Linked DNA regions of Homo sapiens: region 1 is linked to region 2. The links come from fine-mapping of genetic effects on plasma protein levels. A gene starts in region 2. The other region holds a variant in brackets. All regions are shown on one strand. Distances are between the middles of the regions. Region 1 overlaps FAM171B (family with sequence similarity 171 member B). Region 2 holds the start of FAM171B (family with sequence similarity 171 member B).

The links. PIP is the posterior inclusion probability: the model's chance that the variant is causal. Protein levels are from antibody-based Olink assays in UK Biobank. Linkage for the fine-mapping came from a reference panel and not from the study's own genotypes, which makes the PIPs less certain.
Region 1: its variant is fine-mapped to the plasma level of the FAM171B protein (UK Biobank, PIP above 0.99).

What each region holds. Positions count from the first base shown.
Region 1 is chr2:186,760,523-186,775,826 of GRCh38, reverse strand. FAM171B (family with sequence similarity 171 member B) reads right to left here. Exons shown (of 8, transcript NM_177454.4): 7 at 14,591-14,714; 8 at 9,868-14,348. The coding sequence ends at 13,004. Among named protein-coding and RNA genes, the nearest start is that of FAM171B, 74 kb to the right of the region's middle. The variant T/C (reference allele first, on the strand shown) is at 6,771.
Region 2 is chr2:186,681,430-186,695,499 of GRCh38, reverse strand. FAM171B (family with sequence similarity 171 member B) reads right to left here and starts at 1,440. Exons shown (of 8, transcript NM_177454.4): 1 at 1,089-1,440. The coding sequence starts at 1,326. RefSeq lists a silencer at 1,277-1,636.

The DNA.
Region 1 (15,304 bases), 80 kb before region 2:
TCTAGAAATTTATCCATTCCTTCTAGGTTATCCAATTTGTTGGTGTATAATTGGTAATAGTCTTTTTATTAACCTTTTTATTTCTGTGTCTTTAGTTGTAATAGCTCCTCTTTTATTTCTGATTTTGAGTCTTCTGTTTTTTTCTAGTGAAAGGTATATCAACTTATCTTTTAAAATATAACAACTCTTAGGTTTATTAATCTCTTCCATTGTTTTCCTAATTTCTATTTTTTCCTGGCCTGATCTTTATTAGCTTCCTTATACAAACTTTTTCTTGGTTTGTTCTTCTTTTTTCAGACCCTTTTGGTGTAATGTTAGCTTGCATATTTGGATTTTTTTCCTTTATAATGTAGGCATTTACTGCTTTCGCTGCATTCCACAAGCTTTCATATGTTTTGTTTCCATTTTCTTTTGTATTAATATATTTTTTAATTTCTAGTTTAATTTCTTTTTTATTTTATTTATTTATTTTTTTTTTTTGAGATGGAGTCTCGCTCTGTCACCCAGGCTGGAGTGCAGTGGCACAATCTTGGCTCACTGCAAGCTCCGCCTTCCAGGTTAATGTCATTCTCCTGCCTCAGCCTCCCGAGTAGCTGGGACTACAGGTGCCTGCCACCACGTCCAGCTAATTTTTTGTATTTTTAGCAGAGACGGGGTTTCCCCATGTTAGCCAGGAAGGTCTCGATCTCCTGATCTCATGATCTGCCCACCTCAGCCTCCCAAAGTTCTGGGATTACAGGCATGAGCCACCGCGTCCGGCCTTAATTTCTTTTTTGATCCATTAGTTGATCAGAAACCTATTGCTTAATTTCCACATATTTATGAATTTTTCAATCTTCCTATCATTGCTTTTTAGTTTCATATTATTGTGGTCAGAAGAGATATTTGAGATGATTTCAATCTTCTTAAATTTGTTTTGTTTTATGACACAACATATGATCAATCCTGGAGAATGTTTCATGTGTATTTGAGAAGGATATGTATTCTGCTGCTGTTAGATGGAATGCTCTCTCTATATGTCTGCTAGGTTCCTTTGGTTTATCATTCAAGTCCACTTCATCCTTATTGACTTTTTTCCTTTTTGGTATGGATAATATATCCATTGTTGAAAGTGGAATATTAAAGTCCGCCACTGTTACATTGCTGTGTATTTCTCCTTTGTGTTAATATCTGCCTGTTATATTCAGATGATCTGATGGTGGGTGCCTATATATTTACAATTGTTATAACCTCTTGATAAATTGACATCTTTATTATATATTAACACTTTTGTCTAATGCAGGCATTTACTACTACACTAGAATTTTACAGCTTTACAGTTTTTGACTTAGTCTGTTTTTTTCTTTTATAAGTATAGGCACCCCTGCTCTCTTTGGTTATAACTTGCATAGAATATCTTTTTTCATTCATGTACTTTCTATGTGTCCTCAAGCCTAAAGTGAGTATTTTGTACATAGAATATTATTGGATCATATTTTTTGACTTATTAATTTTTTTATTTCAATAGGTTTTTGGAGAGCAGGTGGTGTTTGGTTATATGAATAACTTCTTCAGTGATGATTTCTGAGATTTTGGTAAACCAAAACATCCAAGCAATGTACACTGTACCAATGTGTAGTCTTTTACCCCTCTCCCTGCTCCCATCCTTTCCTTAGGTCCCGAAAGTCCCATTTCCACACCTTTGCATCCTCATAGCTTAGTTCCCACTTATGATTGAGAACATAAAATGTTTCCTTTTCCATTCCTGAGTTGCTTCACTTAGAATAATGGTCTCCAGTTCCATCTAGATTTCTGCAAATGCCATTATTTCATTCCTTTTTATGGCTGAGTAGCATTCCATGGTATATATTGATATGATTTGGCTGTGTCTCCACCCAAATCTTATCTTGAATTCCCACGTGTTGTGGGAGGGACCCGGTGGAAGGTAATTGAATCATGGAGAGCAGGTTTTCCCATGCCATTCTTGTGATAGTGAATAAGTTTCACAAGATCTGATGATTTTAAAAAATGAGAGGTTTCCTGCACAAGCTCTCTTTCTTTGCCTGCTGCCATCCATGTAAGATATGACTTGCTCCTCTTTGCCTTCCACCATGATTGTGAGGCCTCCCCAGCCATGTGGAACTGTAAGTCCATTAAATCTCTTTCTTTTGTGAATCGTCCAGTCTCAGTGTGTTTTTATCAGCAGCGTGAAAAGGGACTAATGCATATATACACCACAATTTATCCACTCATTGATGAGCATTTAGGCTAGTTTCATATTTTTGCAATTGTGAATTGTGCTGCTATACACATGCATATGCAAGTATATGTTTTGTATAATACCTTCTTTTCCTCTGGGTAGACACCCAGGAGTGGGATTGCTGGATCAAATGGTAGTTCTACTTTTAGTTCTTTAAGCAATCTCCACACTGTTTTCCATAGTGGAATGATTATTCCCTCAAATATGTTTAGATTTCTCCTCCTCAAGAACACCAATTATTCTTAGGTTTGGTCTTTTAACATAATCCCAAACTTCCTGAAGGTTTTGCTCCGTTTTAATTTTTTTCTTTGTCTTTATTGGGTTGGGTTAATTCAAAAGCCTTGTCTTCAAGCTCTGATGTTCTTTTTTCTGCTTGTTCAATTCTATTGCTGAGACTTTCCAGTGGATTTTGCATTTCTCTAAGTATGTCCTTCATTTCCAGAAGTTGTGATTATTTTTTATTTATGCTGTTTATCTATTTTTCTATTCATATCCTGTGACATTTTTAAAATTTCTTTAAGTTTGTATTCACCTTTCTCTGGTGCCTTCTTGAGTAGCTTAAAAATCAACCTTCTGAATTCTTCTAGCAATTCAGAGATTTCTTTTCAGTTTGGATCCATTGCTACTGAGTTATTGTGATCTTTTGGGGGTGTTAAATAACCTTGTTTTTTCATATTACCAGAATTGTTTTTCTGGTTTCTTCTCATTTGGGTAGACTATGTCAGAAGGAAGATACGGTGCTCAAGAGCTGCTGTTTGAATTCTTTTGTCTTATGGGGATGTGGTACTCTCCCCATTCCCCTGGGGATGGGGGTTTCTGAGAGCTCAACTATAGTGATTGTTGTTTCTCTTCTGGATCCAGCCACACAGCAGAGCTAGTGGGCTCTGGGCTGGTTCTGTGGAGTGTCTGCAAAGAGTCATGTGATGTGATCCATCTTCAGGTCTCTCAGTCGTGGATACCAGAACCTGTTCCAGCGCATGTAGCAGGGGAGTGAAGTGGACTCTGTGAGAGTCCTTGGTTGTATTTTTGCTTAGTGCACTGGTTTTGTGTTGGTTGGCCTCCAGCAAGGAGGTGGTGCTTTCAAGAGAGTATCAGCTGCAGTATTACAGGGAGTATACAAGCTTGCCCTAAGGTCACCTGGGTAAGTATTTGGGTGTCTCAGGTGGTGGGTGGGGCCACAGAGCTTCCAAGAAATTATGTCCTTTGTCTTCAGCTACCAGAGCGGGTAGAGAAAGACCATCAGGTGGGAGCAGGGTCTGGTGTGTCTGAGCTCAGACTCTCCTTGGGCAGGGCATGCTTAGGCTGTTGTGGAGGATTGGAGTGTGGTTCTCAGGCTGATGAAGTTACATTCCCAGGGAGATTATGGCTGCCTCTGTCATATCATACAGGTCACCAGAGAAGTGCAGGAAAGCCAGCAGTGACAGGACTCACACAGCTCCCATGCAGCTGGAAAGGCTAGTCTCACTCCCACTGTGTCCCCCTAACCACACTGAGTTTATTTCCAGGCAGCCAGTGAGCAGGGCTGAGAACTTGCCCCAGGCTACAAGCCTCCCTGCTGAGAAAGTAAACAGGGCTTTCAGGTTTCATGCCTCCCTACCTTCTGCAGCTTCTGTGTTCATATTTGTACTCCAGGTCACTCCCTCCCCCAGTTTCTGTCCAGGAACCTTCACCTTGAGTTGAAATTGTTACAAAGTTCAGCTGAATGTTTCCTGAATCTTTCATCTTTCCCCAGTTCCACTGCCAGCCCTCCCCAAGGACCCCTATGAAATAAAGTCAGAAATGGCTTCCCTGGGGACTGAGAGTGCCCACAGGACTCTTCCCTGTGCTTCTTCTACCCCCATATTTTTCTCAGCTCTCTAAATTTGTCTCAGCGCCAGGTAAGGTCAAATTCTTCTCCTGTGATCTGAACCTTTAGGTTTCCCAGTGAGGATGTGTGTTTGGGGGTGGATGTTCCCTCTTTTACACTTTGAATACTCACATTCTTTTGGCTGTCTCACAGAACCTGCAACAGCAAGCCGCTTCCTTCAAAGGGCTTGTGGAGTCTCTGGCTTTCTTGGTATGTTACTGCACTAATCCTTGGAGCAAAAGTTCACAGTGTGAGCCTCCACACACTGCTCTGAGTGGGAGCTGAAGTTAGTCCTGTCTCCTATCTGCCATTTTTTTTCCAACTGAGATCATATTTTTTAATCCATTTAAACACTGTGTCTTTTGATTGGAAAATATATTCATTTGCATGTAAAGTAATAATCAATATGTAAGAACTTTTGCCATTTTGTTGTTTACTAATTGTTTCATCATTCCTTTTTTCCATTATACCATTCTTTTCTTCCTCCTTTGTAATTTGTTAGATTTTTGAAGTGCATGCTTTGGTTTTTTTTTGTTGTTATCTTTGTGTATTCACTAGAGGTTTATTTTTTCTTTGTGTTCACCACAGGACTTTTACGAAACATCTTATTGTTATAACATTCTATTTTGAACTAAAAGCTTAAGTTCAATAGCATACAAAACCCACACTTCTATTTCGCTCCTCACCACATTTTAGGCTATTGATGTTATATTTTACATCTTTCTATTTTGTTTATTTATCAGCAAATTGTAGTTACAGTTATTTTTAATACTTTGGTCTTTTAACTTTTGTACTAGAATTAAAAGTCATTTACACACCATTATTACAGTATTAGAGTATACTGGATTTCACTAAATATTTACCTTTACCAGTGAATTTTGTACAGATGGTCCCCAACTTACATTGGTTTGACTTATAATTTTGTGACTTTATGATGGGTTTATCAGGATGTTTCCCCATTATAAGTTGAGAAACATTTGTACTTTCATATGTTTTCATGTTGCTATTTAGCATCCTTTTGTTTCAACTCTAAGAACTTCATTATTTCTTGTAAGGCAGGTCTACTGGTGATGATGTCTCTCAGGTTTTCTTTGTCAGGGAATGTCTCTCTGTCCTTCATATGTGAAGGACAGCTTTGCCAGTTATAGTATTACTTATTGACAGTTTGTTTTTTTTGTTTTGCACTTTGAATATGTTATCTTACTTCCTCCTGGCTTGCAAGGGTTTTGTTGAAAAGTCTGCTGATAGTCTTATGAAGGTTCCCTTGTGTGTAATAAGGCACTTTTCTCTTGGTGCTGTCAAGATTCTATCTTTGATTTTTGACAATTTGATCATAATATGTCTCAGAATATTCTTCTTTGGGTCTGATAGAGTTTGGATATTTGTCCCTGCCTAAATCTCATGTCGAATTGTAATTCTTAGCCTGGTGGGAGGTGTTTGGATCATGGAGGTGAATCCCTTGTGGCTTGGTGCTGTTTTTATGAGAGTGAGTGTGTTCTCACAAGGTCTGGTCACTTAAAAGTATATGGCACCCACGCCCGCACCCTCCCCGCATCGCCTCCATTTTCTCTCTCTTTCTTTCTTTCTCCTACTTTCACCATGTGACAGGCCTGTTCCCCCTTCACCTTCTGGCGTGATTGAAAGTTCCTTGAGGAGCTTCACTGGAAGCTGAGCAGATGCCAGCGCCATGCTTCCTGTAAAGCCTGCAGAACCATTGGCCAATTAAGTCTCTTCTTTATAAATTACACAGTCTCAAGTATTTATAGCAATGTATGAACAGCCTAATACAGGGTCAGTCTTGCTTAGGGTTTTCTGAGCTCCATGAATCTGGATCCTCTCAATATTTGAGAAATTTTCAGCTACTATTTCTTGAAATAAGCTTTCTTTAGCTTTCTCTCTCTCTCTTGTTTCAGAAACTCCCATAATTAATAATATATTTGTATTTGATGGTGTCCCATAAGTCCCTTATGCTTCCTTCATTCTTTTTCTTTCTATAATTGGGTAATTTCAACTTACCTGTCTTCAAGTTCGCTCAGACAACTAGCCTATCACCAGCTGCACAGACTGGTGTGGCTTCATGTGGGTTTCTGGGAAGGCTCCCCCTGGGTCACTGAGTAGTTCTCTGGACAGGCAGTGTTGTCCCCAGCCCACAGATGTGAGGGACTTAAACAGTTGCAGGGCTGCTTCAGGTTCCACAGCTGAGACTAAGGTTGACAGGCCTGCCTCTAGGAACTGAGAGACAAGTATGTCTCCCCCTGGGGACCTCATGGGGCAGGACTGCTTGCAGTCTGCAGCTGACAGAGCTGAAGACAAGTCTCTTAGCCATTTCAGGGTCCACAGGAAGAAACAAAGTCAGCAGGCCTGTCACTGAAGGCATAAATGGTGTGACTCTACCTGGGTTCCTTGGTGGGTGATTGTGGTAGCAGGATCAAGGCCAAACATGGCTGCAACTGAGTCCTCAGGATGACAGGGCCATTTCCAGGTCTGGAACTGGGACCATAGCCTGTGAGCTTTCTACATGGGCATAGTTCTACCCTCTAGAATGGCCTTACTAGGTCTTGAGCTCCAGGAGGTTTTCACAAACTCCTATCTGAATTCCAGAGCTCCCACAAAGCCACTTTTGCCTTTGTTGCTTGAGAGGATACAAGCAGGGGAGCTCCTATTTTACCATCTTGCTGATGTCAC[T/C]CTCTCCTCTTCTCAAAACATTTCCAATTATTCCATTGAACAAAATCCATTATCATTCATCTAATTCATAACTCCATTAATCAATATTTATTGAATACATACTGTACTGTTAAGAATTGGAGGAATTGTAAAGCATGGTTTCTGTCCATAAGGATCTTATGGTCTAAGAAGACAAACATAAGATATCAACATAACAATTTTGTACATGCAATCAGGCAGTATTTTCTTTAGAAGTGAAATGAGCTCATCTTGGGGCAGATGGAATTTTCAAAATTTCCTGATTCAGATTAATTTCTTACTAAGGCTAATTTTAATAGTATCAAATCTCATCTTCACTTAAAAAAAAAAAAGGCAGGAAAGACAGGTCCCAATTTCAAGAAGAGTAAGTACAATTCTCTTATCACTGATTCATTACAGCTTGCTCTTATGTCTCATTGTGAAAAAAGAAAATAATAGAACAGTGGCAAGCATTACTTTTTGAGAAACCAGAGTTTCAGAAAACAGGTATGTGTTAAAGATTGTTAGCATGAAATTCACTTTCAAGATTCTTTTCTTGTCATTTTATTTAAACATTAAGGAAAAAAACTTATTCAGAGAAATAATTTTTCCCTTCCTTTTATAAGTATAAGCACTCCTTAGAAATAATTGGTAAACTCCTTAATTATAGATCTCATCTACTTGTCATTAACAACCTCTTCAATGGTCAATATTCACATCAATAGTGTTTTGTTAAATAATACATGGAATAATGACAAGCAACTCTTTTAAAAATCAGAAATACTAAATTTTTAAAAGTAACAATGAGAAAATATCTGCAAAAGTATGTTAATAATTATCCTTTTTTGTATTTTATGGACACAAACCTTTCAGAAATTATCTAAATCAGAAATCAGGGTTTTGAAATAGTCTTTATTATAAAATTTTGGATACTGATAAGCTAATTTTTTAAGCTGAATTTTTTAAAGTATTTTTCTATGAAAAACAAAAGAATCTACATTATTGGATTGAAATATGGAAATATGTAAAATAAAAATTCTGAGATATTTACTCTACATTGCTTAATAGCCACTATTACCCTTTCCGGATAGCCCCCATTTAGAAAAAGTTTCTAACTAAGCTGTTCAAGTGTAATAAGTCCAGAGACTCTTGGGAATGTAATTGTCTTATTTGTTTTGAATCAGACTGTCTGCAGTTAGTCTAGTGTTTTAATAAGGTCTACAAGGATTAGAACTAGTCAACATATGAATTATGAAACCCCCAGTCAACCTGAAGAACAGAAAAAAAATCAATCCATGGGGAAAATCTGGTACTCTTGCAAGACTGTGGAATACCATTCAGAACCATAGCAGAGGTAGGCTTGAAAACCAGGAAATAATAGGTTTCAACTAAGAAAGGTTTTGTTACCTAGGGGGATAAAATAGCATATGCTTCTAAAGATGTGAACTTTCTTTTTTAAAAATAATCTGTGGGTTTACATCATCATGTAAACTTTCCCAAAAGAAATAGGAAGCTATTCATCTACTATAGCTAACAAAGTGCAGGAACGTGTTATTGCAATATTTTAACAAACATCACAGGTAGTTTTAAAATGTAATCTTTAAGCTTAGCTATTTTGGAAAGAAAATAGTTATTTTTTTCTAAGGCACGTACCATTATATACTTGATGAAAATGTTTTTCCATCATTTGTCATTGAGATTATTAGCTTTCAGCATTTAATATGGCAAATTATGGTTGACTTCTAGACTATTTTCTTCTAGTCAAACTCTGAAGATGTTATGTTTTAAAAATCTTAATAGGCAGAAATCTAGTCCCCAAATAAACTGAAGCTCAAAATGAAAAGATAAAGACAAGTCAAAGAAAGAATATTTATTTTGATGGAGCAAACAAATTCAAAACTAAGAAAATAAGGCAATTTTTCCTAGAAGAAATTAGCCCTCTAGTTGATTTAGAGAGAGCTTACCGATATAAGTAAGCTGTCTCACTGTGTATCCATCTGTCAAGAAATCCACCTATAAAAAGAGGTCCACAGGGTGATTTCATGGGGTCTAGGTAAACAAACACTGTGGTGTAGTTTAAATATTTTTCCAACATTTACTTCAAGGAAAGGATCCCTGATTATCTGCCAGTTATTAAGTACCAAAAGGTGAATCACTTTTGATAAACTGATTAAAATGTCTCTTAATTATATCCAACTACTTTTCTTACAGTTCTTACATCTCAGTCTTCCCATATTAGTTTCTCTTCTGAGATGAGAATGTGATGATCAGTTCATGACCATCATGTTTGCCAGCTGTTTCTGATTGATGAATAGTTTTGTTACAAACCAGTACCATGTGAGTTAGCGTCCCCTATGGCTCCTCCAGGGGCCATATAATTTCTGGTAAGACTAAGACTCTCTTGGATGGAGACCAGGCTCCCTAACAAAGGTAGCCATAGCTTGGCTGGCACATGCAGGGATCCAAGTGGAAGTATTTATCATACAGCCAGTGCTGGGAATTACAATGTCTACTGGTGAGTGGATTCAGAGTCCAATTCCTATTAGAACTGACCAAAGCTATTTTTAGTACCTTATTAATGTATAAAAGTTACATGTCTAAAAACATGGCAGTCAAGATAATTCTAGAAAGTATTCTAAAGTCCCCTAATACAAACTGCATGAACTTAAATATTGTTCAATTGATTAAGCAGAAAGGTTATTGAAGAGCTAACTCTTTTAAGTATAAATAGCCTTTGTGTTATCATTTAGACTCAGGTTTAGAGTTCAAAGAATATTTTAAAAGGGGGTTGAGGGTTTACTGTATCATTTTCTCACTTAGGTGTTTTGGGATTTGTAATTTATTTTAGATTCAATCAGATTGTCTTAAATCTCCTCAGTGGATGGAAAACAATTTGTCCACACTCAGCTCTAATAGTAAAAATTGGGACTTTGTAGACATGAAATATAAAGAAATATCGAGTTCATTATATAAATAAAAGGGTTTATTTTACTGTAGGAGATGTAATAAGTAAAAAGTAATAATTGAATATTTACTAGATTAAATGGCAATGTAGGGAGGAATGTTTTCTAGTTCACCAAAAATTAAACAATGCTCCAAGTACATTTTAGATTTATTTTATTATTTTTAATGAACTATGTTTAACATTTTACAAATCTTCAGGTTGTTACAGTTTTCAGCAGTAAATATAGTAGTAACAGCAATAAATACACCGAAATATGAGATTTCTCTGAAAGAATACAAAAAATAGAAACACCTGGAAACAAGAAGGCAAAATGTCAATTCTAGATCTGAAATAGAAATTAATACAGCTGAATTCCTTTACAATGCTCGTACATGGGAAAATGAGAAACTCATGCGCCTTATAAGAATGTGTGACTTTGAGCTTCACCTTTTTAGGAAGTTTTGAGGGACATCATTTGACCCACAGATCTCTAAAACCCTATAATACGTATTGATACCAGAGGATTCAAACACATAGTGGTCTGAAAATGATTGCCAAAGCAAAGAAGTGCTTTCATTCCTCAACATTTGTAATCTCTGTGGTATATTATGTATTATAAAAGGGCATAATCCCTATAGAACTGAAAGGGCATAATCCCTATACAACTGCATAAAGTCATAAAAATTGATTTATAAAGTCTCAAGATCATAATATGTATTCAAAAATACATACAGCTGTGCTTTAGTAAATGAATCCATCAGTTAGTCAAGAGATAGTTTTGCCTTTAATATATATCCAAAGTATATACAAAGGATCGACAAATGTTAACAATTTGTGACCAAAATCATCTAGGTTTATATTTGAAAAAACCTTGGTTTTCAATTTAAAAATTTAAGAAAGTTGTGAATATTGTTTATTATCACTTGGGTTAAGAAAAAGTAGATGGTTTCAGCTTTTTAACAGGAAATTTGTGAACTACTCACAAATGAGAAGTCACACTCTTTTGATCATTAGAAAAGATAAATTGCCTATAATTACCAATTGAGAACAGCATGTGCAGTGTAAAAAATAATAAGGTTTTATTCTGAAAGCAAACAAGTAGTTCTAGAAAAGCCCTTGGGATACATCATCTCATTTCCCTTACACAAAAATGAATAAAATAAGTGGCATACCTGAATGGTATACCCTTATACCAATATGTGTATTTCATTACCAAGCTGAGATGAAACATTTTTATTTAAAGGTGGGAAAAATAAACACTTAAAATATAATGTTTTGCTATATAGTTTCTAACTTCATTCCAACATAAACAATTTATCAATATATACTGTATTCAAAAAACAAGAAATACTACTCACATGCAATATTTATTGTTCCAACATGAAACACTAGGTCTATATTTTTAATAAAACTGCACATCTGTTTAATTTGGTTAACTGAAAGAAAATGCACACTTAAAAAAGATGTTATATCCTTCTAATAATGCAAGTCTATATCAAAGGCACTTCAGCAGAGCACTAACTTTAACCTTTTCCAAATCATTTTGAGTCATGCTGCTTTTGATGTATCTTTCTGTGTAAGACCAATAAGAAGCCTTCTCTAATTAATTGTTATGAGCCTTATCACTAAAAAAAAAAAAAAAAAAAAAAAAAGGAAGCCTAGGTATTACCCAAAACATTATTTCTTCTATGGATTGGGGTAATATATAGCAAATATTTGCCTAGGGTCTTTATGTTCTTTCAGTTAACACAGAACAGTAGGAAGGTTATTTGACACGTTAGAAGTTGGAGGAAAAAATTGCACATCTAGCTATAATTTTACTGAAGCTAATGTGGCTGTTTTGGTTCACTGAACTTGTTTACATGGTTTGGGTCTCTATGCTGCTCCCATGTTGAATAGGAGGGAATGAAAAATAAAGCAATTTAGGATTTTTACCCCCACAAGGGAAAGGTGCTTCAGACATTTGCCTTCAGGGAAATTTTAAGAAAAATGGGATCAGTTGATTTTAATGAATAACGAGCTTTTATTTTTAGGATGTATGAATGGTAATTCAGAGTTAATTAAAAAGTTGTTCACATTGAATGCTTGCTATAATGAAAAGAACATAGATATATTACTTACAAAACTGAAAAAAGAAGTTGCAAAGGCTTTAAGTGACTTAGGGAAAAACTTTTACTTTTCCCCTGAAATTGAAACTGTTTTCCTTACACATCTTTTAAGAAAATCAATAACTGGATATACAACTATCCTGAAGGTATTTTTGAGCCTCAGGAAAATGGCATCTCTTTTTCTTCTCATCAACATTTAAGAAAAACAAATCAATGTATATTTTATCTGCACATATTTTATTTTAGTGTTCAAAAGAAACTTTCACATCGACTTTTTTTTTAAATTTCATAGCCTTTAAGTGACTGAGTTCAGGTTTTTAGAATAGAAGAAATATATTAAAACCAATTTAGCCTAAAAGTATCAGTGAGCCTTAAACCAAAGTCATAGATTGTTTTTTTCAGATTTGTAAAAAGTTTCCCTTGACAGCTAAGCTTGCTTCATTGTTGAGGGGAAGAAAAAATAATTTTTAAATAAAAACTCAGTATTAGAGCATTAATTTCTCAAATTTCTAAATTAACATCTTACTTATTTTGTAAAGTTATATCCAAAAACAACCAAAGAGCTGGTGTCTCCCTCTCTAATGACCAAGTAGCTTCTTGCCCATCTTATATAAATGTAGGATTTACGTTTGGGATGATACAATACACATGCTCTTTAAAGACCAAACAACATTTTCTTTGTGATAACTCCAGAGTAACATCAGTCCAAGTCATTTATCAAGTTATTTTTAAGTATAGGCAGAAGAAGACGTAATAGTAACATTTAAAATAATATGATGCCTGAAGTCAGTTTTGTTTCTAAATGTTCCATGGGGTAGTCACCATGGTAGAGGCAACATTTTTGGAGGCAACTTGAGGAGTATATATTTCACTGTTATTCTTAAGAGAGTCAAGGCCAAACTGGCTGGCTGAGCAACATTTTCAGATAACTAACATCTTGAAGCTATTTTACATTTTGAAAACTTAGATACTGTAAATTCATCACCCAAAAATAAATGAATAGGCCAGAAAAAGCATTCCTTGGTATCTTTCTCTCTGATTACTGAATTACCATTTACTCTGCTTGAGACATGTCCAAGAACCATGAGATTGCTCAGTCTCATTTTCTTAAGTTCGTACTGCAATTTACAACAAGAAGCAAGAATAAACAGCACGAGACAGCAGACACACAATCCCCATTGGAGTTAATTTATGGGAATCAGTGGGCGTTCCTCTCGCTTCTTCCAGATGTTAGTCTTGCTATCTCTTTTGGCTAGTGGTGGTCTGCCCCTTCTTTTAGTGGGGGATGTATTAGCTTCAAAATCTTCAACAGTGCTTTTCCTTCCTGGCGACTCTTCTCCAGGGTGCTCCATGATCACTCCACTCCCTCCATCTAGGATGTGCCTTAAAGCTGGGTCCTCAGGGGAACAGACGGTGGTTCCACTCTCACTGCTGCTTAGGTCTAAATCTTCTAAGTAAAGGATCTTGGGCTGATGCATGCTTTTGATGAATGTTTTCTCCCTCTCGAGCTTTCTACTTGAGTGAAGCTCATTCATGTCCACCCCAGAGTCCAGACTGGTGTCATTGCTCTGGGTTCTCTTGCCCTTTTTCAGGTCTATAAAGGAGTGCCTCACTTGTGCAACTGGCTTTCCATCAAGAGACACAAACCAGGCTCTGGGATGCGGGGAGGGCTTTCCTTTGGACAGCTCCAGGAGGGTCTGTTCTGAAATTCCTTGAAGTTCCGATGAAAATGGAGTCATTACAACAGCCTCATTTAGTGTTCCAGGAACAGAGACGGATTCCAGTAAGCTGCTTGAGTATCGGCTCCAATCTGAAGCCTGGGATGGCAGGCTCTGTTGACCTTCAAGTATGATATCCTCTTCCCTGGCATCTGGGGGCTGTGCATGAGAATGAATTGGCATTTTGGGCAAGGTCTGCGTAAAGTTCTCTCGATTTACTGGTTCCATCAATTGGCCATAGACTAACTGTCCCTTTCTTGGCAAAGTAGCTGACTTAGCAGTATGTAATTGTTCCGGTGTGGAGAAAAGGTCAGATGTTTGAAGGATGGCAATGGGTTGGCTGTAAATATGCATAAGCTGTTCAGGAATATGGGAACGCCCATACGCCTCCTCATTACCTGTGAGATACCTCTTTTCATCTTGAGCATCACCTAGAGATGAAGATAGATTGTTGTTAATATGTTTAGGTTGTTTGGACCCTACATTGGGCTCCAAAGACTGTGTTGGGTTTCTTGAGTAATTATTTTGATTGACTGATAGAAATGAAACATCTTCATTGTAGATTTTAAAATCGTCCCGAGTTTTTACCATGGAAACTCTTTCTTCTGTTTCTGCCTTTGATGGTTCCTTTTTCTGAGGACTATATGAGGAGTTTTTGGCATTGAATAACTGCGACTTGTCCTCAGCTTTTAATGCAACTTTAACTGTACTGATATGATTTATGTGTGTTGTTGAAGTTGTCTGGTCTCTCTTGAGGACCTCAAGTTTAGTGATATTTCTTTCTCTTTTCTGTGGAGTACCACACTTGTCCCTAGAGTAGAAGAGAAGGCAAAAAATATTTAAAAGTTATGACACAAATGGTTCATTTATTAAAAATCACTCCCAATCTACATATCATACATGCAATGCTATTGTGAGATATGTAGATTAAAAATAAAAAAGGATATATTATAAGATTAAATTTATTTCTACAAATAAACTTTTCAATGTACAGAATATACTGAAATGATACCATAACTTGATAGTTTTCTGTGTTTATAGCCATTTTCTTACCTGCAATAACAAAGTAGTACAGCAAAAAATCCAATGACAATGACTATTGTTCCTCCTAATATGGCTGTAAGAAACACTGTGTGGTAGGCAGTTATGTCCTTGGAATCTTCATTTATACCTGAACCTACATGGTTCAATATAAACAAAGAGAAAATGTTATTTTAGATCAAATTCTCAACTATGTCACATCCTGGGTGAGGCAAATTGAATAAGTGTACATACTTTTATTTGTTTGCCCCCCTCCTATGACAGATTTCCCTATGGGTGAAGTAAACCTTCCCTATCCTTTGGCTTAATTGACTGACTCGCTTTAACCAATGAAATGTGAGCATATTAAATGAGTTTGCATGGTGTGGCTCTGCCCTCTTGCTCAAGACTTCTAATATGTGAATAGCATAGCCCAGAGAGTTGTTATTCCTTCAACCTGGGGTCTAGAATGAGAATATCTGTTGAACTGAATGAAGCCAAGTCCAACAGCGCAGCAGACAATCCTGAAACACTCATGAAATGTTAAGTAGCAAATAAGCGTTTGATACTGTTAGCCACCGAGACAGCAGGGTTGTTTGTTACTGCAGCAATGGATATGACAGAAGATGCTGAGATGCTGCTATAGAAAGCTTAAAACATATGACATTGGCTTCTAGGCCAGGCAGTGAGAAAACTGTTTCAAGAGGCCGTAAAACTGGTGACCCAAGTAACAAAAAAATTGGTAAA
Region 2 (14,070 bases):
CAGCACTCATATAGTGTTACCAGGCAGGATTTTAAAACAAAAACAAACGTCATAATAAAATTCACTTTGGTTTCACAAAACCTAAGCCCTCGTGCCAGAAAATTGGAGGCTTTTTTTCTTTCCAAATAGCAGACAAGAATCTACAGCCATGAAGCGAAGTGGGTTGCGGGGTAGGGAGATGCAATATACATGGATAATCTAGCTATTTGCTTACCGATGGAGCTTTAATGGGGGGAAAGAGGGAGGAACTGCGGAACTGTTACAGCCACCTATACTACAGCCGTATTTCTACACCTTCACTGAACAGTGTCAAGAATCTGCCTCATTTAAGTTCTACTAACAAGTAAGGAGATTTCTCTCTCTAGGGATAGGCTTTTGCTGTTCTAACACCACTCCAGACTTCACCTTATGTGTCCCCCTCTCCTTTTCCCTTTCCTTCAATTACAAACTCCTGTTTTGTTTTGCTTCATCTTATTGTACTAAAAGAGTTCTTTGCAATAAGATGAACCCTTAAACCCTTCCTGGGGTAAAGAGAAAGAGAAATAAATAATAAAATATATAAAGATTTCTCTCTTCATGGCTAAATTTAAATATAGCAGGCATGGAGAAATGGTGAAAAGGGGTGTGTGGGTGTCCATGGCAAGATTTCTCAGTCTCTAGGAGAGAAAAGGATAGAGAACAAAATGTTTAAGGGATTTAAGAACGGTGTGTGTGTGTGTGTGTGTGTGTGTGTGTGTGTGTGTGTGTGTGTTACAGTCATTCCCAGGGCAGAGGGTAGAATTCAGGAAGAAGGGAGGGAAAAGAAAAAGATCAATCCAGGCAGTCACCCACCCCCAGCCTTCCCGACCCCTCTCCAACCCACCGCAGTGCTCTGAGCTGCTCAGAAAGCTCATTACCCGGAGGGCAGATTCCCGACACCAGATCAAGGGACCAAAGGCTGGGCAGCCAGTCTGGGGAGAGAGATCGGGAGGGATGGTGACAGGAACGAACGAGGATAGGAATGGATAGGGAAGGGGCGAGGAAGCCGGCGAGGCCCTAAGAGATCGCCGGCCGAGACTGAAAGACCGGGCTGGGCAGCCAGGACCTACCTGGAACCGTCAAGGTGGAGGTTGCCCCAGGCACCTCTGTCCTCTCCTCCTCAGCCTCCTCCAGCTGCTTTTGCTGTTGTTGTTGTTGTTGCTGCTGCTGCTGCTGCTGTTGGATGAGGCTGAGGTCGGAGCGGCTGAGTTCCGCTCTGGCGGCCGCGGGGACCAGCCGCGCTTTCAGCAGCACCACGGCCAGGCCGAGAAGCAGGGTGCAGGGGACACGCCGGCAGAGCCTCGCCATGGCCTAGAGCCAGAGGGCCGCGGCGGCATATTGCGGGGCTCCGGGCGGCGGCGGGCGCCAGGGCTGCGGGCTCCTGGCAGCGCCCGCTCGCTCGCTCCCCCTCGCGCAATCTGCCAAGCACTCCCTCACCGGCAGGAGGAAGAGGCCCGGGAGGCGGAGGGGGCGGAGGAGGAGGGAAGGGGAGTTCGCATCCTCGCGCATGTGACGCGCGGGGAGGGGCGAGCCGGGGCCCGCGGTCCCGCGCCCCGCAGCCACCTGGGGCCAGGCTGCTCCGAGAGGACGCGATGCTGGGGCTGCAGCCCGGGTGGAGGGCCCTAGGGGAAACAGAAAGGGGAGGCCTTCTGGGAGCTGGTAGACCCTCACAGCGTCCACTTCCCACTGAGGCACCGGGAAGATTTGCAGAGAGTGGAATAAAATTCCTTCCACCTGAGCCCAAAGTAGCAGAGAAGGTGGTATATTGATTACCCCCATCCAGCACATAGCGTGGGTGGCACCAACGGATCAAAAAGCCAGGATCTCAAACAAATAGGCTTTGCTGCATCACCGCCATCATTGCTTAGCTAGAAGTTAAACTGCAGCGCGCCAGATTTTGACTAAACTTCTTTTCTCTGCCCTAGTGGGAATTTCTTTCCATATCATTAAATATTCTTAATTACATTTTATCTAATTCTAGCCTATCCTTTTCATTTGTTCAAAAAAATCTTACTAAATACTAGTTGCTTACCATGTGCCAGCATTTCTTCAGGTGCTTGGAATAAGTAAAATACAATCCCTGCATTCCAGGAGCTCAACATCTATTAGGGGAGAGGAACACAGGAACAAATTAGAACCCAATGTGGTGGCTACAAACAGAAAAGCAATACAAGTCCAGAGGTCTCAGAATTGGAAGAAAATATCTTGTGTATGTAGGGGCTATGAAACACCAGGAGAGGTAGAATATAAAAAAGAGTAAGACTTCCACACAGGAGAAATCAGGAACGTGGAAGAGTGTGTGTGTGTGTGTGTGTGTGTGTGTGTGTGTGTGTGTGAAGCCCAGATGTGTGTAAGCACAGTGGGCTTGCAAAAGTGTGAGCAATTATTCTAATGGAGGAATGACAGTGTTTTAGATTGAAAAGGAGAGTGGAGACCAGGTCATTAAAAAAATAATAATAACAAGCATTTCTATAGTACTTACTGTGTGCTCAAGTACTTCACATTTGTTAACTTCTGTAATAAACTTAGATGCTGTATACAGAAATTGAAATTCACACAGTAGATGATAATGAAAGAAATTAATCAGGGAAGAAACTTGCTACCAGTTGTGCATTTTAGGAGGATCACTTTGCTCTCAGTATGGCAGATGGATTAAAGGGGGATAAATTGGAAGAGAAGATGCCAGTTTAGAGGTGTTTGCCAAAACCCATAGGAGATGCCAAAGGTCATTGAAACTGAAAAGGAGAAGAAAAGAGTAGGAGACACAGTATATAAGACTACAATAAACAGATACGGTTAATTGGAAGAGGAGGAGATATGCCTAGTGTGACACCTAAATTGACAAATTGAGATCTTAGGTGGCTGCTTATGACCTTATCAACATTAACTGGCCTAGAGTAATGAGCCCTGCCTTGTTCAGTTGTGGTCTCTTTGTATTTGGAGTAACTGTGGGACATCTCATAGTGCAATATAAATGTCACCTGCTGTGACATCACCCCATTTACCATTGTAGTTCATTGTCCTTTTCCACCCTTATCATTCTTACCTTGTCCCTCCCAGTGTTTTCAATATGCTGGAAAACAACAAACTTCTCAGTACTGGAAAAGTATTTTTTGGTTAAGCAAATGAAAATAGTGTATATATAACTAATGGTTTAGATGTTTTGTCCTTTCCAAATCTCATATTGAAATGTGACCTCCAATGTTGGAGGTGGGGCCTAGTGGAAGGTCTTTGGTTCATAGAGGAGAATCCCTCATGAATGGCTTGGTGCCCTCTTCATGGTAATGACTGAATTCTTGCTCTGAGCTCACAAGAGATCTGGTTGTTTAAAAGTGTGGCAACTCCCTTCTCTCTCTCGCTTGCTCCCTCTCCTGTCATGTGACACGCTGTCTCCCTTTCACCATCCACCATGATTGTAAGCTTTCTAAGGTCTCACCAGAGCAGATGCCAGCACCACACTTGCGTTGTACAGCCAGCAGAACTGACCTAAAGTAAACCGCTTTTCTTTATGTCACCCGAAGTTTACTGCAATGCAAATGGACTGACACAATAACCATAAATAAAATAACAGTAGGTATTTTGCATCTATTATCTCATTATATCTTCAGAGCATCTCTACAAATTAGCTCTCATTATCCTATTTAGCAAATGGAAACACTGGAGATCAGAGAGGCTCCATGTCTTGCCAGAGGCTACATTTACAGTGTGTGACTTTACCTTTCTGCACCGTTTGAGACTTCTGCTATGAGTTTGTATTGCTTTTTTAGTGATTTTAAAACAAAAATAAGGTATGTGGACCACATAATTTTGGGGAAAATAGATACTAAAGTGAGGCCCCTCACACTAAACATCATTCTTCCATCAGGACTTTCTTTCCCTGGTCTGTGTGAGGCAGGAGCCATTGGGGGAGGGGGCTCCAGAGCTGAAGGCAGCAAGTTTCCATTAGTTTCATCAAGCTGTTTTTATGGCAATCTCTTCCAAGTTACCTCTGCTCCTGGAGAGAAGAAAGGAGAAAATGGAAATGGCTCCAAAAACCTGACTGGTGGATCAGAAGGAAAGGAATGCAGCCAGGATTTCTGTCATCCTGCCTTGGGGTAGCCAAGTTATTTTTAATATAGTAGAAGCAGACCTTCTGGAGGCAAAGCCACTGGGTCATGGACCCTGGTAGAGGGTGGACCTCAAATCTTTCAATACTATGGACTGTTTTAAGAGGTAAGTGTTGTCAATCAAGAGTATTTAAATAGTTTTTAAGTGCTTCATTATTCGTGTAGTTCATGCTTAATTTCTGTGCAATATAAAAAAGCCATATTATCCGATTCAATTGGGGATAGTACTTGGCAAATGAAAAAAGTTCATCAAAAGACCAAAGTCAATACATCCTAAATATATCTTAAGCCACATATTTTACCCTAGAATAAATAAATATATATTTGTTCACAAATCTTTTGATGTAGGGCCAAGAATTTCAACCACATCCTAGAGTTTGAAGTCATAAACCACAGTTATGATATACCACTATGATTTGCAGGTTTAGTTTAAGTGGAAGTTCTCAAAGACCCTTGCCACACAATTAGAGTGCCAAGTCATTCTATGTTCAATTTTTTTCCCAAGCTTGTAGAATTTTCTCATATACTTAGTATTAAACTTATATTTTATTTTATTTTATTTTTTGAAACAGAGTCTCGCTCTTGTCTTCCAGGCTAGAGTGCAATGGAAAAATCTTGGCTCACTGCAACCTCCACCTCCTGGGTTCAAGCGATTCTCCTGCCTCAGCCTCCTGAGTAGCTGGGATTACTGGTGCATGCCACCACGCCTGGCTAATTTTTGTATTTTTAGTAGAGACAGGGTTTCGCCATGTTGGCCAGACTGGTCTTGAACTCCTGACCTCAGGTGATCGCCCGCCTCAGCCTCCGAAAATGCTGGGATTACAGGCGTGAGCCACCACACCTGGCCTAAACTTAGTTTTAATAGGAAAAATTTACTTATCTCAAATCCATATTGTATATATTCCTTATCACACATATAACTGGCAAAAAAGAAAAAGTTTGTGAAAAATATAACTGACTTTTGGCACAGGCACAACCAAATGACAGGAGTAAACATAGGCAGACATTCAGGAAGATGTAAGCTGATAACTACATTTGCCCTAAATGTTTGTCTGTGTGTTTTACAAAGGAATGAAAAATGCCAGTTAATCCAGCAAGTTATTTTCAGGTACATAGTCCATGATAAAGTTTATGCTAAACACAATGTAATCGTTAAGGTTAGAAATTCATCATTTTTAGAAAAATGCCCCAAGAGCCATCAGAAAGCAAAGCACAATACTATACACATATAATTCTTCCCCACTTAAAACCTACTGGTACCTCCTCATTACTCTTAGCACAAATCCAAAATTCCTAACATGATTTACAAAGCCGTTTGCAATATGTCCCCTGACTACCTAGGTTCAGGTTCATTTTAAAAATTTTCCTGCATACACACACACACACACACACACACACACACACACACACGGGAGTTTCTTCTATTCCTTTGAACTAGATTTGAGTTGCCCCTAGACCTTTAAATATGTGATTTTCCCTGCCTAGAAGTCTACTCCTTTACCCGTTTAACTGGCAAGTTCCCCTAGAGCCCGAAGAGTTCAGGTTAGATATTACTTCCTCCAGGATTCATTCCCTAACACCCTTAGTTTGATTAGGTGCCTCTGTTATGAGCTTGCGTGGCAACCCATATTTCCTGTTTTGATCTTATTATTTAAAATGGGCATTTACTTTTCTGTATCCTCACTTACTAGCCCCACAAGAGCCAGGACCATTATGCTCACAGCTGTGTCAGCAGCTCCTACCATGATACCTGGCATTGCTTGTTTGATTGATTACTTGGCTGATTAAATCAATAAAACAATTTTAAGAGGCAGAACTGTTGCTTAAGGGTGGAGGACCATGGTATCAGACTGCTCTGGTATCAACCCCTCACGAGTGATGTAATTTACATGAGATTCTAGGCCTCAGTTTCCTCAACTGTATAGGGGGAGAAATAGTAGAACCTAAAGGAGCTAACAAAATAAAATAACATGTGAAATACTTTGAATTTCAGCCCAGAGGAAGTCTTCGGTAAATGTTAACTGTTATTTATTTTGTTAAACTTGTATATGATTGTTCTGTTTTGTTTATATGTATCTTATATGTATATAAAATTTCTAGATCATGATGCTCATCTGAAGATAAAAAGAAAAAAATTAAAAACAAAACAAAATGCATGTTATATGCAATCACTTCTCATTTTTCTCGGTAGTGAATGTTCCATTAAGTAACCGTAAACGTTGAATTAGCAAATACTGAACCATTCCTCCTAGAGGAAATACAAGTTAGGTTCCTGTGAACCTCTCATCACAAGATTTTTGTCAACAGATCAATATAAAACTTGTTTTATGTGTGTTTCTGTTTAAAGACACCATGTTTATTTTATATATTATTGGTTCAACAACATTGAAATCACAGACAATAGCACTGTAACTCATGTCTAAACAAAGCTTACCTAACACTTGTATTTTGCCTCCAAGGCTCATCACAGCCTTCTGGTACTAAGAAGTGCTAGACAGCACTCCAGTATTATACTGGAGAGCCATTTTAAACAACAAAATCACCAGGAAAAAAGCACACAACTGTGAAAAATATGGTGCTAAATAGACCACAGAAAGGACACATTTCCATTTTAAGAGCTGAACAAGAAGGAAGAGCATCTTCTCATTTGACCTCAGCTGGGAATGTTCATGTTGGGCAACTCCATAGCTGCATGCAACAGAATGAAGTTAGACCCTTACTTCACATCATTTACAAAAATTAACTAAAATTGGATCAAGGACATAAATATAAGAACTAACATTATAGAACTCTTAAAAGAAGTATAGGGATACATTTTCGTGATGTTGGATTCAGCAATAATTTCTTAGATATGACACCAAAGGGCAAGCAACAAAAGAAAGAAATATATATATATATTGAATTTTATCAAAATTAAAACATTTATGCATCAAAGGACACTATCGTGAAAGTGAAAAGACAACCTACAGAATATAAAAAGAACTCTTACAACTTAAAGCAAAATGACAGACAACACAACAATATTTAAAATGGGCAAAGGACTTGAATAGTCATTTTTTTCAAAGAAGATATAAAAATGGCCAATAAGCACATGAAAAGATGCTGAACATCAACAGTCATTAGTAAAATGCAAATCAATCACAATGAGATACAACTTTACACTCATTAGGATGGCTATAATTTTTTTTAATGGAAAACACGTGTTGGCAAGGACATGGAGAAATTGGAACCCTCATACATTGCTGGTGGAAATGTAAACTGGTGCAGCTGCTGTTTACATTTGGAAACAATTTGGCAGTTCCTCAAAAACTAGACTAAAATTAAGGGTTATATAGCAGGGAAGAAATGGAACTATGTGTTGGAAAACGGGGATTAGGGAAGAGTAAGAAAGAGGAGTTCATCAACAGGAAACAGGTGGTTGGTTAGGCAATCATGACAAGTAAGAAGTCTGAGATCTCATTGTCCAGATGCCATGATCTGTTAAGTTTCAGTTCCTTGATACTCTCTGGGAGGCCTGCTGGTGCTTTCCTGAGAAAGGAACTCAGATAACACAAGTGTAAATTTTTCAAGTTTTAAGACTGGTAGGGTCTATTTCTATGTTTATTAAAAATAAACCATAAATATCAGTTCTATGGGACAATTGGCCTGGTTTCAGTAGAAATAAAAATGCCTCCCAAAGATGTCCATGAGGTAATTCATAGGAGCTGTGAATATGTTACCTTACACATAGTTTGGACTTTAAAATCCAAAGTGCCTTAAAAAGATTTGGCAGCAATGTAAAACTAATTTATCATTCAATACATGATAAAGTAATGAAGCTTATCCAGTGACAAGACTGCATGCAACTAGGAGAGGATAGAGAATCGGTAGGGAGAAGAGCTGGATTTGGAGAATTAAAAGTGAGAAGACAGGATTATTTCTGTATGGTAAATAAACCAGATTCTCAGTTCTGTCATTAAATCACTGCTATACTGCAGCTGCTTTAGGGTTCCCTTGAAAGGCTAGGGCTGTCCATTGGAAAGAAAGTAAAATTAGTTACTGGTGTGTCATCTCTATTTGTTGGGAATCATTAAATACCTGTGGGATGATTGAGAGAAGACCTTTCTGTTTCAGTTTGTGCTAGTAATTTAGCACCAGGTGAAGTGCTTGGGTCTGGTTTAATAGTCAAGGTGCAAGTCAGAAAGTCAAAATTGGTATTACTATCAAACAGGAAATTTACTTATTTAATAATTTTTTCCTTTTTATTTCCTCACTAAAGTATACTGAAAAATTCAAAATTACTGATTTGTCTGCAGACTAGGTAATAATATCCCTGAATTTTAAAGATGTTTATGTCTGTTATAATCTCAAAAACAACTTTATCTACATTGTTCAAAGATGAAAAAAAGTATAAGCCACCAGAATTTTCTATGAAAAACCTATCATGTACCATACACAAGATCAAAAATAATTTCTATTACTCTGGTGAAGAGCATAATTCTCCAAATTGAAAACTACTACTAATAATGTAGATCAGTTGACACTTTTTGAATAACTTAGTGATAACTAATTAATATTCTGAATACAGGATTAACTAAAGAGTAACCCCTAAAGGGTCCATTTTAACACCCTAATATCTGAGAAAGGAAGTAAAATAACTTTAAGATTAATTACTTTGAAACAAAGTAGGTATTTTTAAATAACGTGAAGGTAAATTACTGTGTAATGACCAAAGTCAAAACCTAAACACTACTTTTATTAAAACTGATAATATATTTGCTATGCTTCAGGAAAATGGGGTTGACAAGGAAATGGTATGAAAGGGACCATAACCAAATAACTTTCTAGGAAAGTCAGAACACTTTAGAAAGTGAATAAAACATTACTTGGAAAAATATTGTTGTTGCACAAATTGATATTCGGGCATTGCAACCTATTCACTAGATAACAGCAATTCTATTTTATGAGCTATGTTTAGTAATCTAGGTAATGTTGCACAGCAGAAAGCATACTGGACCAGGAGTTTGAATGTGTAAGCATTAGTCCTAATCCTGCTAGTAACTGCCTTGGCCAAGTAATGAATTTTCTGGGGATTGTTAACATTAAGAAGGGGTTGAGGCAAACTTCTTCTAGCTTATGGCTTTTAGGAGTTTGACCTTGATGTGCCTAAAAGATGTCCTGTTTAGGGTTCACTGAGCTTCCAGAATTGTAGGTTGCTATTTTTTAAATCAAATTTGCAGTTTTTGACTTCAAATAATTTGTCTGCCCCATTCTTTCTCTGAGACTGTTTTTCCACCTAGTTAGATTGTCCCACAAGTCACTGAGGCTGTTTATTAATTTTTTTTTTCTGCTCTGTGCTTCAGTTTGGATAAATTCTGTTGATCTAAATTCATTGATCTTTTATTCTATGCTACCTCACTCTACTTTTGATCCCCCTCCAATGGATTTCTGATTTCAGATACTACTTTTAATCCTAAAATATTCATTCAAGTGTATTTAATTAGTTTCCCAATCTTTCCTGAAATGCCCATCTCTTCATCCATAATATTCATGTTTTCCTATAGACCTTTGAGGATTTTCATCGTAGTTATTTGAAGTCATGTCAGCTATGGGTACACAAAGGCATACAGAATGGACACTGGAGACTCAGAAGTGGGGAGGGTGAGAGGGAGTGAGGGATAGCAAACTACACATTGGGTAAGATGTACACTGCTCGGGTGAAGGGTACACTGATATCTCAGACTTCACCACTATACAGTTCATCCATGTATCCAAAAACCACTTGTACACCAAAAGCTATTGAAATAAAAAAAAACAAATTGAAAGATAAAATATTTTTAAATATAAAAATAACAGAAAAAATAAAGTCATGTCTGCTAAATTGTTTGTGGGTCTGTTTCTATTGACTGATTTTTCTCAAAACTCTGGGTTATATTTTCTCACATTTTCCTGTTTCTTCCCATTCTTCCCCACCCTCCTCCCCTCCATGACATTGTGGATGATACATTGCAGAGTCTCTATGTTGTGTCATCTTCCTCTGAAAGTAAGTCTTTACCAGCAGTCAGTTAAATTACAGGTGTATCATAAACTTGGGGAAGCTTGGTTTTACAGTTTGTTAGGGTGGGCCTGTTTTGGCTTTTTCCTTCATCCTAGGGTGAATTAATTAATCTTTGGATGTACTACTTATTCCTAAGGCATAGATCCAATGGGGTTTCAATGGAAAAATGGGTTTTTTGAAGCCCTGTAACTAGTAAGACTTGAACTTTCATCTCTTGTTTCTTGTGCAGTGGACAGTAGTAGCTGGAATAACTGCTCCATTCTTTCAGCCTTCCCTCTGTTGTTTTCCTCTGGGCCCCTTATAGCCTCACTCAGTGCTGGGTTCAGCCAAGGATTTGAGGGAAATATTTCCCACCTCCCACCCTGTGACTGCTTCCTTTCCTGGATTTTTCTCCTCAATTTCTAGCCATAGTGGCAGTCTCATCATTCCAGAAAGAAAGACAGCTTTCTGTTGTATTCTATCCGTTCCATAGGGAGTAACCTCAGGGGTAAATGTAGCTGCCTTCTTTAACAGTTAAATCCCCTCCAATTTCTGCCTGCTTTCAGTAACTTCAATGTCTTCAAAGGATTGTTTTCCACCCTATTTTGTTAAGAATTTATCATTGTTATCTGATAAAAGCTATCCTGCCATTATTGAAATTGGAAACCCCTATTAAACTTTAAATGCCTATGATTCTGTTCTTGGTCACTAAAATTATTTATAATCTTTTTTTTAATCAAGCATGTCAAAGTATTATGATATCTATGATCAAGTTGCTTTGTTTACAAGAAAGTTTTTAATTAAAAAAAATTTTTTTTGTAGAGATGGGGGTCTCACTGTCTTGCCCAGACTGGTCTAGAACTCCTGGCCTCAAGCAAACCTCCTACCTTGGCCTCCCAAAATGTCAAGATTACAGACATGAGCCACTGTGCCCAGCTGGTTGCCTTTAGATTTAGCTTATGTACAAGCAACAGACTGAACAAATGCAAAGGGTATTTGGGGTATAACCTAGCCAAAGAGTGGTATGGTAAACTCAGCAGGTAATTCTGATCCATTCATGATTTCAGCAGGCTCTTCATCAGGAGTTACAAACTCAAATTCCTACAATGGCTAGGCAAATGAGTAATGAGAACTTAGTCTCGTGAAATAAACGGAAGTCTCTCTAGGATTTATGGTAACCCCAAAATTGCTTGACCATCTTAGTGCAGACCTTACTCAGTTCCAATGCTGTATCCAAGCAAGAACACAGGCTCCTATCCTCAAGAATACCGTGGCTCTTAGAATTCAGAATCTCTGTCTTTGGGGTATTTATAATACATTAATGGTGCCAACTAGTTCATTTATTTTTAAAATACCTTGAGGCCAAACAAAACAACATCAGGCCACTGTTTGCAACTTTGTGATTTTGCTCCTGATCCAAGATATTCCCTGGGATTGTTCTATCTCATCTCTTGATGCTAATCCTGACCCTCCTTCTCCCAATATGTTCTAGATCTGCTCTCCTCAAGTTTTCCTTCTTTCCTTATCTACATCATATCCTTTAAAATGTGTTTTGCCCCTTAATGTACAAAACTGCTCAAGAATTTTCCATCTGTAAAACAAACTTTCCTACTTTTGCTTTCACCTCAAACTACAGCCCGTTCTCTTCCTTTCTAAGCCTAGCCAAGCCTAATGCCTATCCACTGCTTGACCCACTGTAATCCGGGTTTAGTGCTTGACCACACCACTGAAATGGCTTTCTGTAAGGTCACGAATAACCCACTCTTCTCTTACTTTGTTTCTCTATGGTTACTTTGTTTCTCTATGGTCTTGCGTCACAGTCTCTCTTGACTTTTTTTTTTTTACTTCTATAGCCAAGCCTCCTGGATCCTGGCCATCCCATCCTCCTTTTAAATGTAAAAATTTACTGCACTGCCTTCTTCCTGTCTCCTTACTTTACACATTTCTCTTGAACAATCTCATCCATTAGCTTCTATTAATACCCATATTATTTCTCTGGCTTTGATCTTTCTCCTGAATACCAAGGCTTATGTTTACAAGAACCTGCTGGAAATTTCCATCTGGATATGCCATAAGTACCTCAAATGTAATGTACCTTTTCCTCTCCTAAACTCTCTGCTCTTCCCCAAATCTCTGCCCCTTTCCTATTTCCTGCCTCAGTTCTCAGTCCAGCCAATCACCCAACCCAGAAACCTATGGATTCTACATCATACATTATCCTAAATATGTCTCCTTCTTTCCATTCCCATTGTTACTGGCCTGGTTTATTTAAGCCCTTATCACCTCTTCTTGGCAGTAATATGAAAATATTGCCAGCCATCATTCTGTCTTCTAATATGTTAATATACTAATATACATAAGTACTTTGCATATATTTAATATTTCCAAAGATAACACTACATGATGAGGTAGCTATTACGATGTCCATCATATAGGATATAATAAAAAGGTATGGAGGGGCTAGGTGGTTTCTGCAAGGAAAGACACTACTGTAGAACACATTAAGAGAGAACATCCTGGGGACATAACAAAGCTCTACCACACGCTAGTGTGAGAGCTTTGATAATCATTCTCTGAGCTGATTTCAAATCAATAAAATGGGTATCAATATAGTATCTATAATATTAGCTATTATATAAATTATTCATAATAAATAGACATATCACCAAAGCAAAATACCAAAGCTACTTCTTAGAAATAAGTAGTATAATTTCTTTTTCTAAAACGCATACAGTTCTGTCACTTTTTGCCAACATGGCTGCCGGTGGTTGAATTTTATCGTATTTCAGGCCTGTTCAAGAATGTTTCTTCATATGGTTTGGCTGTGTCCCCACCCAAAATCTCATCTCAAATTGTAATTCCCATAATCCCTACAATCCCTACATGTCAAAGAAGAGACCAGATGGAGGTAACTTAATCATGGGGGCAGTTTCCCCCATGCTGTTCTATTGATAGTGAGTTCTCACGAGATCTGACGGTTTATAAGTGTTTGGTAGTTCCGCCTGCATTCATTTTTCATCATGCTGCCTTGTGAAGAAGGTGCCTTGTTTCCCCTTTGCCTTTAGCCATGATTATGTTTCCTGAGGCCTCCCCAGCCATGCTGAATTGTGAGTCAATTAAAACTCTTTCCTTTATAAATTACCCAGTCTCAGGCAGTTCTTTTATAGCAGTGTGAAACAGACTAATACAACTCTCTATAATGGCTTGCCTCATTAATGATTTATCACCATTATAAGGTTCGAAGGATGTTTAAAATTAATCTTGGAAAAGAGAATTCCACGGCTCAAAATTTTCTTCTTGGACCAGTCAAGTGAATGATGGAAGAGACTTACTGGATAAGCACTTAACATATGCGTTTGATAACCCCTTTTCTTGCATTTTCACAAAGTCCTCACAAATTTACCCTCTGTGGACCAAGATACTTCCACAGAGGGTAAATTTGTAAGTGACTGGGAAGAGCTTTGAACCCAAGTGGTTTCAACGGTTTTCAAAATGATTTCAGGAAGGGCATGGTGGCTCACACCTGTAATCCCAGCACTCTGGGGGGACAAGGCAGGCGATCACTTGAGCTCAGGAGTTTGAGACCAGCTTGGGCAACATGGCAAGACCCCATCTCAAAAAAATAAAATCCTTTCATATGTGTTATCTTATTTGATCCTAAAGAGCAACTAGTAAGTCAGGCAGGACAGAAAGGCTCTGCCCATTTTCTAATTCTCACACTCAAAATACTTCCATGTGTAGGTGCTGTACATTTTACATCTTAATTGGAGCCAAAATATCAAGTATGGTGGTCAGGATAGGGGTAGTTATGACTTGCTGGTCCAGGGGAAATATCACATCTAACTAAGCATATAGTGTTAGAAGTAAGGACAGTGGTTACTTTTGCAGGGCAGGGTGAGATATGATTAGAAAGAGACAGAAGGGGGCTTG